Linked DNA regions of Homo sapiens: region 2 is linked to region 1. Evidence: fine-mapped expression QTL. Tissue or cell type: whole blood. Region 1 holds a variant in brackets; the other region holds the start of a gene. All regions are shown on one strand. Distances are between the middles of the regions.

What was found. PIP is the estimated chance that this variant, and not a neighbour inherited with it, causes the effect.
Region 2: A1BG-AS1 starts here. The variant in region 1 is fine-mapped to the expression of A1BG-AS1 in whole blood (INTERVAL, PIP above 0.99).

Annotation. Positions count from the first base shown.
Region 1 is chr19:58,156,946-58,162,091 of GRCh38, reverse strand. The region is part of intron 1 of LOC124904784 (a long non-coding RNA gene); the gene reads right to left. Among named protein-coding and RNA genes, the nearest start is that of ZNF329, 8.7 kb to the right of the region's middle. The variant AT/T (reference allele first, on the strand shown) is at 2,536.
Region 2 is chr19:58,349,246-58,354,391 of GRCh38, reverse strand. It overlaps A1BG-AS1 (A1BG antisense RNA 1), which reads right to left and starts at 2,422. Exons shown (of 4, transcript NR_015380.2): 1 at 1,348-2,422; 2 at 918-1,013; 3 at 535-678; 4 at 1-23. It overlaps A1BG (alpha-1-B glycoprotein), which reads left to right and starts at 900. Exons shown (of 8, transcript NM_130786.4): 1 at 900-988; 2 at 1,065-1,100; 3 at 1,195-1,464; 4 at 1,837-2,109; 5 at 2,705-3,001; 6 at 3,741-4,022. The coding sequence starts at 955. ZNF497 (zinc finger protein 497) reads left to right here. Exons shown (of 3, transcript NM_198458.3): 3 at 1-35.

The DNA of each region.
Region 1 (5,146 bases):
GGCAAAAGAATTTTTACAGATGTGAATAAATTAGGAATCTTGAGATACAGAGATTATCCTGGATTATCTGAGTGGGCCCAGTGTATTCACAAGGATACTTAAATGTGGAAGAGGAAGATAGAAGAGTCAGAATCAGAAAACGAGTTTTGATGATGGAAGCAGAGGTTGGAGTGACTCAGGGCCATAGACCTAGCAATGTAAGTGTCCTTTAGAAGCTGGAAAATGGAAGGCATGTATTCTCCACTCATGCCTCCCAAAGGAAAGCCAACCCATTTTGGATTTCTGACCTCCAGAACTATAAGATAATAACTTTATTTTGTTTTAAGCCACTAAATCTGTGGTAATTTGTTACTGCTAGGAGTCAGCAAACTATAGTTTCCAGGTCTGGTCCCGTCTGTTGCCTTTTTGGGGAGGGGATGGCTTATGAACTAAGAGTAGTTTTTATATTTTTTAAAATTCTTTTTTTTGTTGTTTTGGCTGGTCAAACGAAGCAGTGGGAGTGGAGAAGAACAAAGAAATCTGTAACTGGTTGTGATCAATTAATTGTAGTTTTTACATCTTTTAATAATTGAAAATAAAGGAATAATTATATTTTGTGATGTGAAAATTATATGAAATTCAAATTTCAGTGTCCATGAAGTTTTTTGTTTGTTTGTTTGTTTGTTTGAGACGGAGTCTCACTCTGTCACCCAGGCTGGAGTGCAGTGGCACGATCTCAGCTCACTGCAACCTCCACCTCCTGGGTTCACTCCATTCTCCTGCCTCAGCTTCCCGAGTAGCTGGGACTACAGGCGCCCACCACCACGCCTGGCTAATTTTTTGTATTTTTAGTAGAGACAGGGTTTCACCGTGTTAGCCGGGATGGTCTCAATCTCCTGACCTCGTGATCCGCCCACCTTGGCCTCCCAAAGTGCTAGGATTACAGACGTGAGCCACCGCGCCTGGCCCATAAAGTTTTTTTATTTTTATTTTTGTAGGGATGGGGTGTCACTTTGTTGCTCAGGCTGGTCTTGAACTCCTGGGTTTAAGTGATCCTCCCACCTTGGCCCCCAAAAGTGTTGGGATTACAGGTGTGAGCCACCACACTCAACTGTCCATAGGTTTTACTGAAATACAGCTCTGCCCATGTATTATGTATAGTCAATAGCTGCTGTTGTGCTACAACAAGGTTGACAGTTGCAACAGAGACCATATAGTCCCCCAAACCTAAAATATTTACTGTCTGGTCCTTTACAGAAAAAGTTGTCTTCCCTTGTTGTAAGCTGCTATGTTTTTGTTTTTTGTTTTTGTTTTTGTTTTTGTTTTTGAGACGGAGTCTCGCTCTGTCGCCCAGGCTGGAGTGCAGTGGCGTGATCTCGGCTCACTGCAAGCTCCGCCTCCCGGGTTCACGCCATTCTCCTGCCTCAGCCTCTGAGTAGCTGGGACCACAGGCGCCTGTCACCACGCCCGGCTAATTTTTTGTATTTTTAGTAGAGATGGGGTTTCACTATGTTAGCCAGGATGGTCTCAATCTCCTGACCTCGTGATCTGCCTGCCTCGGCCTCCGAAAGTGCTGGGATTACAGGCGTGAGCCACGGCGCCTGGCCCGTTTTTGTTTTTGTGACAGTCTCACTCTGTTGCCCAGGCTGGAGTGCAATGGTGCAATCTTGGCTCACTGCAACCGCTGCTTCTGGGGTTCAAATGATTCTCCTGCCCTGGCCTCCCGAGTAGCTGGAATTACAGGTGCGCAACACCATGCTTTGCTAATTTATTTTAGTAGAGACAGGGTTTCACCACGTTGGCCAGGCTGGTCTTGAGCCACCGTGCCTGGCCTAAGCAGCTATGTTTTGGGGTAATTTCTTACAAAGCAGTGGATAATTAACACAGAACCTCTTCCTGTTCCTTGACTTGGGACTAAAACACATGAGACTAGCTTTAGCAAACAGGATGTTAGCTCATGTGGTGTGAATAGAGGTGTGAGGTATGCCCCCCAATAAACCTTTTGCAGTTCCAACTCCTTCTCAGTATCTACTGATCTTTTTTTTTTTTTTTTTTTTTTTTTTTTGAGACGGAGTCTCGCTCTGTCGCCCAGGCCGGACTGCGGACTGCAGTGGCGCAATCTCGGCTCACTGCAAGCTCCGCTTCCCGGGTTCACGCCATTCTCCTGCCTCAGCCTCCCAAGTAACTGGGACTATAAGTGCACACCACCAAGCCTGGCTAAACAAAAAAAATTTTTTTTTAAATTAGCCAGGCATGGCCAGGCACGGTGGCTCACGCCTGTAATCCCAGCACTTTGGGAGGCCGAAGCAGGCAGATCATTTGAGGTCAGGAGTTCGAGACCAGCTTGACCTACATAGTGAAACCCCGTCTCTACTAAAATACAAAAATTAGCCCGGCGTGGTGGCAGGCGCCTGTAATCGCAGCTACTCATGAGGCTGAGGCAGGAGAATCGCTTGAACCCAGGGGGCAGAGGTTGCAGTGAGCCGAGATCGCACCACTGCACTCCAGCTTGGGCGACAGAGTAAGACTCCCTCTCAAAAAAAAAAAAAAAAAAAA[AT/T]TAACCAGGCATGGTGGTGCATATGCCTGTAATCCCAGCTATTTGAGATGCTGAGGCAGGAGAAATGCTTGAGCCCAGGAAGTTAAGGCTGTAGTAAAGTATGATTGCGCCACTGCACTACAGCCTGAATGACAAAGCGAGGTGAGGTTCTGTCTAAATAAATAAATAAATAAGAAGGCTTACTTACAGACTCTTGCTGGTGGCCTGAAAAAAGGAAGCTACTGTGAGCTCTACAGCTGCAAAGAAATGGATTCAGGCGGGGCGCGGTGGCTCAGGCTTGTAATCCCAACACTTTTGGAGGCCGAGGCAGGTGGATCACCTGACGTCAGGAGTTCGAGACCACCCTCAACACGGAGAAACCCTGTCTCTACTAAAAATACAAAATTAGCCAAGCATGGTGGTGCATGACTATAATCCCAGCTACTCAAGAGGCTGAAGCAGGAGAATTGCTTGAACCTGGGAGGCAGAGGTTGCGGTGAACCGAGATCGCGCCACTGCACTCCAGCCTGGGCAACAAGAGCTAAACTCCGTCTCATAAAAAAAAAAAAAAAAGAAAGAAAAAAAAGAAATGGATTCAGCCAACTGAATGAACATGAAAGTAGATACTTCTATAATCAAGTCTACAGATGGGAATGAAGCCAGCTGACAGCTTGATTGCTACCTCTGGAGATCCTAAACAGAGGGCCTAGTTAAGCTATGCCCAGACTCTTGACTCACAAGAACACTGAGATAATAAATACACGTGGCTTTCCCCACGAGGCGGAGCCCGCAGTGAGCCGAGATCGTGACACTGCACTCCAGCCTGGGCAACAGAGCACAACTCCATCTCCAAAAAAAAGAAAAAAAATGTGGTTTTTAAGCTGGTAATTTTGTGGTAAGTTGTTACACAAAAACAGTGAACAGGCCAGGCGCAGTGGCTCACGCCTGTAATCCTAGCACTTTGGGAGGCCGAGGCAGGCAGATCACGAGGTCAGGAGTTTTGAGACCAACCTGGCCAATATGGTGAAACTCCGTCTCTACTAAAAATACAAAAAATAGCAGGGTGTGGTGATGCGCCCCTATAGTCCCAGGTACTCGGGAGGCTGAGGCAAAAAAATTGCTTGAACCCAGGAGGCGGAGGTTGCAGTGAGCTGAGATTGTGCGTGTCTGGAAATGGTGGGTTCTTAGTCTCACTGACTTCAAGAATGAACCCACAGACCCTTGCAGTGAGTGTTACAGTTCTTAAAAGCAGCGTCTCTGGAATTTGTTTCTTCTGATGTTTGGATGTGTTCGGAGTCTCTTCCTTCTGGTGGCTTCATGGTCTCCTTGGCTTAGGAGTGAAGCTGCAAACCTTGGTATTGACTGTTACAGCTCATAAATGCAATGCGGACCCAAAGAGCAAGCAGCAGCAAGATATATTGCAAACAGCCAAACAACAAAGCCTCAACCATGTGGATGCAGACCCCAACACGTTACCACTGGGGGCTCGGGCAGCCTGCTTTTATTCCCTTATCTGGCCCCACCCACATCCTGCTGATTGGTCCATTTTACAGAGAGCTGATTGGTCCATTTTGACAGGGTGCTGATTGGTGCATTTACAATCCCTGAGCTAGACACAAAAATTCTCCAAGTCCCCACTAGATTAGCTAAACACAGAGCACTGATTGGTGCATCCACAAACTCCTGAGCTAGACACACAGTGCTGATTGGTGTGTTTACAAACCTTGAGCTAGATACAGAGTGCTGACTGGTGTATTTACAATCCCTTAGCTAGACATAAAGGTTCTCCAAGTCCCTACTAGACTCAGGAGCCCAGCTGGCTTCACCCAGTGGATCCCGCACAGGGCCGCAGGTGGAGCTGCCTGCCAGTCTCGCGCCTTGCGCCCGCATTCCGCAGCTCTTGGGCAGTTGATGGGACCTGGCGCTGTGGAGCAGGGGGCGACGCTCGTCGGGGAGGCTCCGGCCGCGCAGGAGCCCAGGGCGGGGGTTGCGGGGAGGCTCAGGCATGGCGGCCTGCAGGTCCCGAGCCCTGCCACGCGGGGAGGCAGCTAAGTCCCGGCGAGAAATCGAGCGCAGCGCCGGTGGGCCAGCACTGCTGGGGGACCCAGCGCACCCTCCGCAGCTGCTGGCCCGGGTGGTAAGCCCCTCACTGCCCGGGGCTGGCGGGGCCGGCTGGCCACTCAGAGTGCGGGGCCCGCCCAGCCCACGCCCATCCGGAACTCTAGCTGGCCCGCAAGCGCAGCGCGCGCAGCCCAGGTTCCCGCCCGCGCCTCCTCCCTCCACACCTCCCGGCAAGCTGAGGGAGCAGGCTCCGGCCTCAACCAGCCCAGACAGGGGCTCCACAGCGCAGTGGCAGGCTGAAGGGCTACCCGAGCATGGCCAGAGCATACGCCGAGGCTAAGGAGGCACCAAGAGCGAGCGAGGGCTGCCAGCACGCTGTCACCTCTCAGTGCCACTGCACTCCAGCCTGGGCAGCAGAGCAAGACTCCGTCTTAAACAAACAAACAACAACAGAAAACAACAGAGACATGCAAAGCTTAGAGAACATGAGTATCTGCTGGGTGAACGTGGGTGGCGGTGACCTTCTCACACTGATGGTAGAAGACGTATGAAAGGAAATTTCATAATATA
Region 2 (5,146 bases), 190 kb before region 1:
CACAGTAGATGCTCAATAAATGCCTGTGGAATGAATGAGTGGGGAGGATGCAGTGCAGGGGGCAGATGAGGGCTAGGCGGTTGCCCTGGGCCCTCACACTCGTAGCGGAGCTAGGCTGGGACACCCAGGGTGGGGACCAGACCTCCCCGGGTGGGAATGACAGGATGTCCATGGAGGCTGAGTGTGAAAGCACCACGGTCTCACCCCTGTCCTGTTCCATCCCAACAGGCTGTGGTGAGGAGAGGGGGAGGCAGGGGAAGCGGGAGGCCTGGCCTCCAGGCAGCAGGCTATAGCCACATGAGTGACCACCAGCAGCTCAGGTAACTGAGCACATGTCACGGGTAGGCCTGGGAAGCGCAGGTCTCAGCTGAATGACCTGGGTGGAAATCCGACTCCAGAGCCGTGGTGGGTCACACCATGCAGAATGAACCAGTGATGGAGAAGGAACCACAGTCCTCAGGAAGAGTGAGGGTGCACCTCCAGACAGCCCATGTGAGGGCAACCGCAGAAAGTCTGAAAAGAGGTGAACCCCACCTTTGGTGTCACATGTGCAGTGTGGTGTGACAGGGAGGGGCTCGCTGGGCTTCAGCCCCGGCACTCTCCACTTGACCTCAGCAGCTCCAGGTAGAGTGGGGAGAACTCAGCGTCTCCTTCTAGAACAGGTTCTAGGATCCATCACTGAAATGAGGATGAGGTGGTTTTAACATCATTTTATCACTCTTGATTTAGTTTATTAATCATACATGATTATTGATTATAATTGTTGCTGGGCATCCTGAGGCCTCAGAAGTTCACCCTTTGCCCTGACCCCATGGGGGCCCTGCCCCCGCCTTCCGGGAAGGACAAACACGGGAAGAGGTCAGTGCCCGAGCCACCCCACCGCCCTCCCTTGGGGCCTCATTGCTGCAGACGCTCACCCCAGACACTCACTGCACCGGAGTGAGCGCGACCATCATGTCCATGCTCGTGGTCTTTCTCTTGCTGTGGGGTGAGGCCTCCTGGGGTCTGGGTCCCTGGGGCGGGAGGGGGCGGGAACAGGAGCCTTACGGGGGCTGTCTCCGCAGGTGTCACCTGGGGCCCAGTGACAGAAGCAGCCATATGTGAGTGCAGGGGTGAGGTCTGGGAATGGTGGGCCCAGGCCGGGGGGGAGCCCTGTCTCTGTGGCACTGAGCTGATCCCAGCCACCCCTTGCAGTTTATGAGACGCAGCCCAGCCTGTGGGCAGAGTCCGAATCACTGCTGAAACCCTTGGCCAATGTGACGCTGACGTGCCAGGCCCACCTGGAGACTCCAGACTTCCAGCTGTTCAAGAATGGGGTGGCCCAGGAGCCTGTGCACCTTGACTCACCTGCCATCAAGCACCAGTTCCTGCTGACGGGTGACACCCAGGGCCGCTACCGCTGCCGCTCGGGCTTGTCCACAGGATGGACCCAGCTGAGCAAGCTCCTGGAGCTGACAGGGCCAAGTGAGCCGGGGCATGAATTGGGGGCCAGGAGGCAGTGGGTAGGTTGTTGACTGGGGGGTCTCCCTTCCTCCAAGTCACCCGATGTCTCTGAGCCCCAAGCCCCAATCTTCCCATCTGTCAAATGGGGATGATGTCTGTGTTGTAAGGAATACATGGTTGTGTCCCCAGCAGGCCCGGCATGCCGTACAGCTCCCACACACTCTTTTTCTCTTGCCGTATGCCTTGTTTCCACTGGTGCCTGCCTGCCTTTTCCCAGCAATGCCCTCCATCCCTGTCTCCTTCACAGTCTTATGAGTGTGGGGCCCAGGTTCTGCTGGGCTTCCCACGTCTCCTGTTATGCAGAAGCACTCTTCAACTCCACCCCACCCACAGAGTCCTTGCCTGCTCCCTGGCTCTCGATGGCGCCAGTGTCCTGGATCACCCCCGGCCTGAAAACAACAGCAGTGTGCCGAGGTGTGCTGCGGGGTGTGACTTTTCTGCTGAGGCGGGAGGGCGACCATGAGTTTCTGGAGGTGCCTGAGGCCCAGGAGGATGTGGAGGCCACCTTTCCAGTCCATCAGCCTGGCAACTACAGCTGCAGCTACCGGACCGATGGGGAAGGCGCCCTCTCTGAGCCCAGCGCTACTGTGACCATTGAGGAGCTCGGTGACTGTGGGAACCATCTCTGGGGGCTGCTGGGGGAGGAGGATACAGGGGGCATGACCACATTCATCCTGACCTCCATGCTGAATGTCCTTGCCCAGGACCAGGTCCAGGAAGCTGGCCACACGGTTGCCTGGGTCTGATGGTTGCAAAGGAGTTTGGGCAGAGGATGCCCAAAGAATGGAAGGGTGAGGCCGGGTGCGGTGGCTCACGCCTATAATCCCAGCACTTTGGGAGGCTGAGGCCAGCGGATCATGAGGTCAAGAGATCGAGACCAGTCTACCCAACATGACGAAACCCCGTCTCTACTAAAAATACAAAAATTAGCCAGGTGTGGTGGCAGGTGCCTGTAGTACCAGCTACTCAGGAGGCTGAGGCAGGAGAATCCCTTGAACCTGGGAGGCAGAGCTTGCAGTGAGCTGAGTGGCGCCACTGCACTCCAGCCTGGGCAACAAGAGCGAAACTCCGTTTCAAAAAAAAAAAAAAAAAAGAATGGAAGGGTGTTCCTGGGATTGCCACCCGGAGGGCAGAGGTCTGGGGACTGGGCAGAGGGCAGCTCCAGGGATGGGGCAGCCTAGTAATGCTGCCTGCATTGCAGCTGCACCACCACCGCCTGTGCTGATGCACCATGGAGAGTCCTCCCAGGTCCTGCACCCTGGCAACAAGGTGACCCTCACCTGCGTGGCTCCCCTGAGTGGAGTGGACTTCCAGCTACGGCGCGGGGAGAAAGAGCTGCTGGTACCCAGGAGCAGCACCAGCCCAGATCGCATCTTCTTTCACCTGAACGCGGTGGCCCTGGGGGATGGAGGTCACTACACCTGCCGCTACCGGCTGCATGACAACCAAAACGGCTGGTCCGGGGACAGCGCGCCGGTCGAGCTGATTCTGAGCGATGGTGAGCCGGGGCCAGCAGGGACAGGGACGCGGCTGGGTCCCTGGGGAGCAGGAGCAGTACCAGGTGTAGAGTCTGGGGAAGTGCAGTGCTCTGGGCCAGGGTCCAATACCAACTTTATCCGCCCACCCGCCGATTCAGGGTCCTAAACTGCAAATATGATGATGAGCGTGACAACCTTCAGGCCCCACAGGGAATAACTGGGTGAACAGGTCTGGCCCAGGCCACAGGGGGCACCACCTGGCAGGTCCCATCCCAGCTGCCAGGTCTAGGTGAGCACTGAGGGCCTCTGCTGAGGCAGCTCCTCCGCTCGCTTGCCTTGGACCTGATGGTATTTAGCAAACTCTGAGCACCGGACAGCGAACCCCATGCCCAGCGGACCACAGGGGCCCCTCCGTGGGGCGGGCATTGGGGCGGTGCTCAGAAGACGCTCGTGGAGCAAATCCACTACTGAGCGGCATCGTGCACCAGGCATCAAGCCATGCACAAAACATGTCCCCGTCCCCGCTTCCCGTCTGTGTCTGTAGACAAACAAATTACTAAGAAACAGTGAAAGGGTGCGTGTGAGATATCCAAGGACTGGGATGCAAAGGTGGGGCGGGCCCGGAGGAGGCGAGGGAGGAAGCTGGCCAGGTCATTGCGGGCAGAAGACTCAGCCAAGGCAAAGAGCGCGAGGCCAGACCACGCGTTAGGGCCGAGCCAGCCGCTGGGCGCCCGGGTCAGCCCGTGTGCTGCTCCGCAGAGACGCTGCCCGCGCCGGAGTTCTCCCCGGAGCCGGAGTCCGGCAGGGCCTTGCGGCTGCGGTGCCTGGCGCCCCTGGAGGGCGCGCGCTTCGCCCTGGTGCGCGAGGACAGGGGCGGGCGCCGCGTGCACCGTTTCCAGAGCCCCGCTGGGACCGAGGCGCTCTTCGAGCTGCACAACATTTCCGTGGCTGACTCCGCCAACTACAGCTGCGTCTACGTGGACCTGAAGCCGCCTTTCGGGGGCTCCGCGCCCAGCGAGCGCTTGGAGCTGCACGTGGACGGTGAGCTGGCGGGGCACCAGCGAGGGCGGGCGCGGGTTCAGTGCCCCTCGGGGCCTCCTGTCTTTCCCCTCTTTCCTTGGGCGTCCGACGGCGGCGCTCTGGGCCTTGGTTCAGCCCCCATCGCCTACCCCGGCGGGGAGCAGGCGATCGGTGGTCGAGGGTCTGGGGACGCCTGGAATTTCGGCTTATTTCCCACGGACGCAAGCCCGTAGGTCACGTGTAGCGTGGTGGTCGGCAGCAGGGAGGCTGGCCCCAGGTTTTCTTGTTCAGATCCCTGCAGCTCTGTGGCTGCCTTGTTTTATTACTGGCCATGTCAGTCGTCATACTGGACCCCCCGCCCCGGCCCCGGTCCCGCAGGCGCACGGCTGATGTGTCCTTCTCCCCATCCCCGCCGTCCCCAGCTCTGTTTGTCCCTCTGATTTCCTCATCGACGTCTCCAGGACTCAGAGCCCAGCAGAGCGTGAGGGCACAGGTCTGACCTCCAGATCTTGAGGTCGTACCCTTTGCTGGGAGCACCGTTTTCTCTTTTCTTTCACTTTCTTTCTTTTCTTTCCTGCCTTCCTTCCTCTTTCTTTCTTTCTCTTTCCTTCTTTCTTTCTTCCTTCCTTCTTTCTCTCTTTTCTTTCTTCTTTTTTCTTCTTTCTCTCTCTCTCATCTCTGCCCCCCAACCCCATCTCTCTCCTTCATTCCTCCCTTTTCTTCTCCTTTTTGTTTTTTTTTTGGATAACTTACTTTTATTCTTGCAGGCCGGAGTGCAGTGGTGCAGTCTCAGCTCACTGCAACTTTCGCCTTCTGGGTTCAGGCAGTTCTCCTGCCTCAGCCTCCTGAGTAGCTGGTATTAGAGGCGCATGCCACCATGCCCACCTAATTTTCGTATTTTTAGTAGAGACCGGGTTTTGCTATGTTGGCTGGGCTGGTCTTGACCTCCTGACCTTGTGATCTGCCCGCCTCTGCCTCCCAAAGTGCTGGGATTACACTTGTGAGTCACCATGCCCAGCCTATTCTTGCAGTGTTATAAGCCACCATCCACAATTGATGAAAAATGTTTAATCTTGGCCAGGCAAGGTGGCTCACGCCTGTAATCACAGCACTTTGGGAGGCCAAGGCGGGTGGATCACAAAATC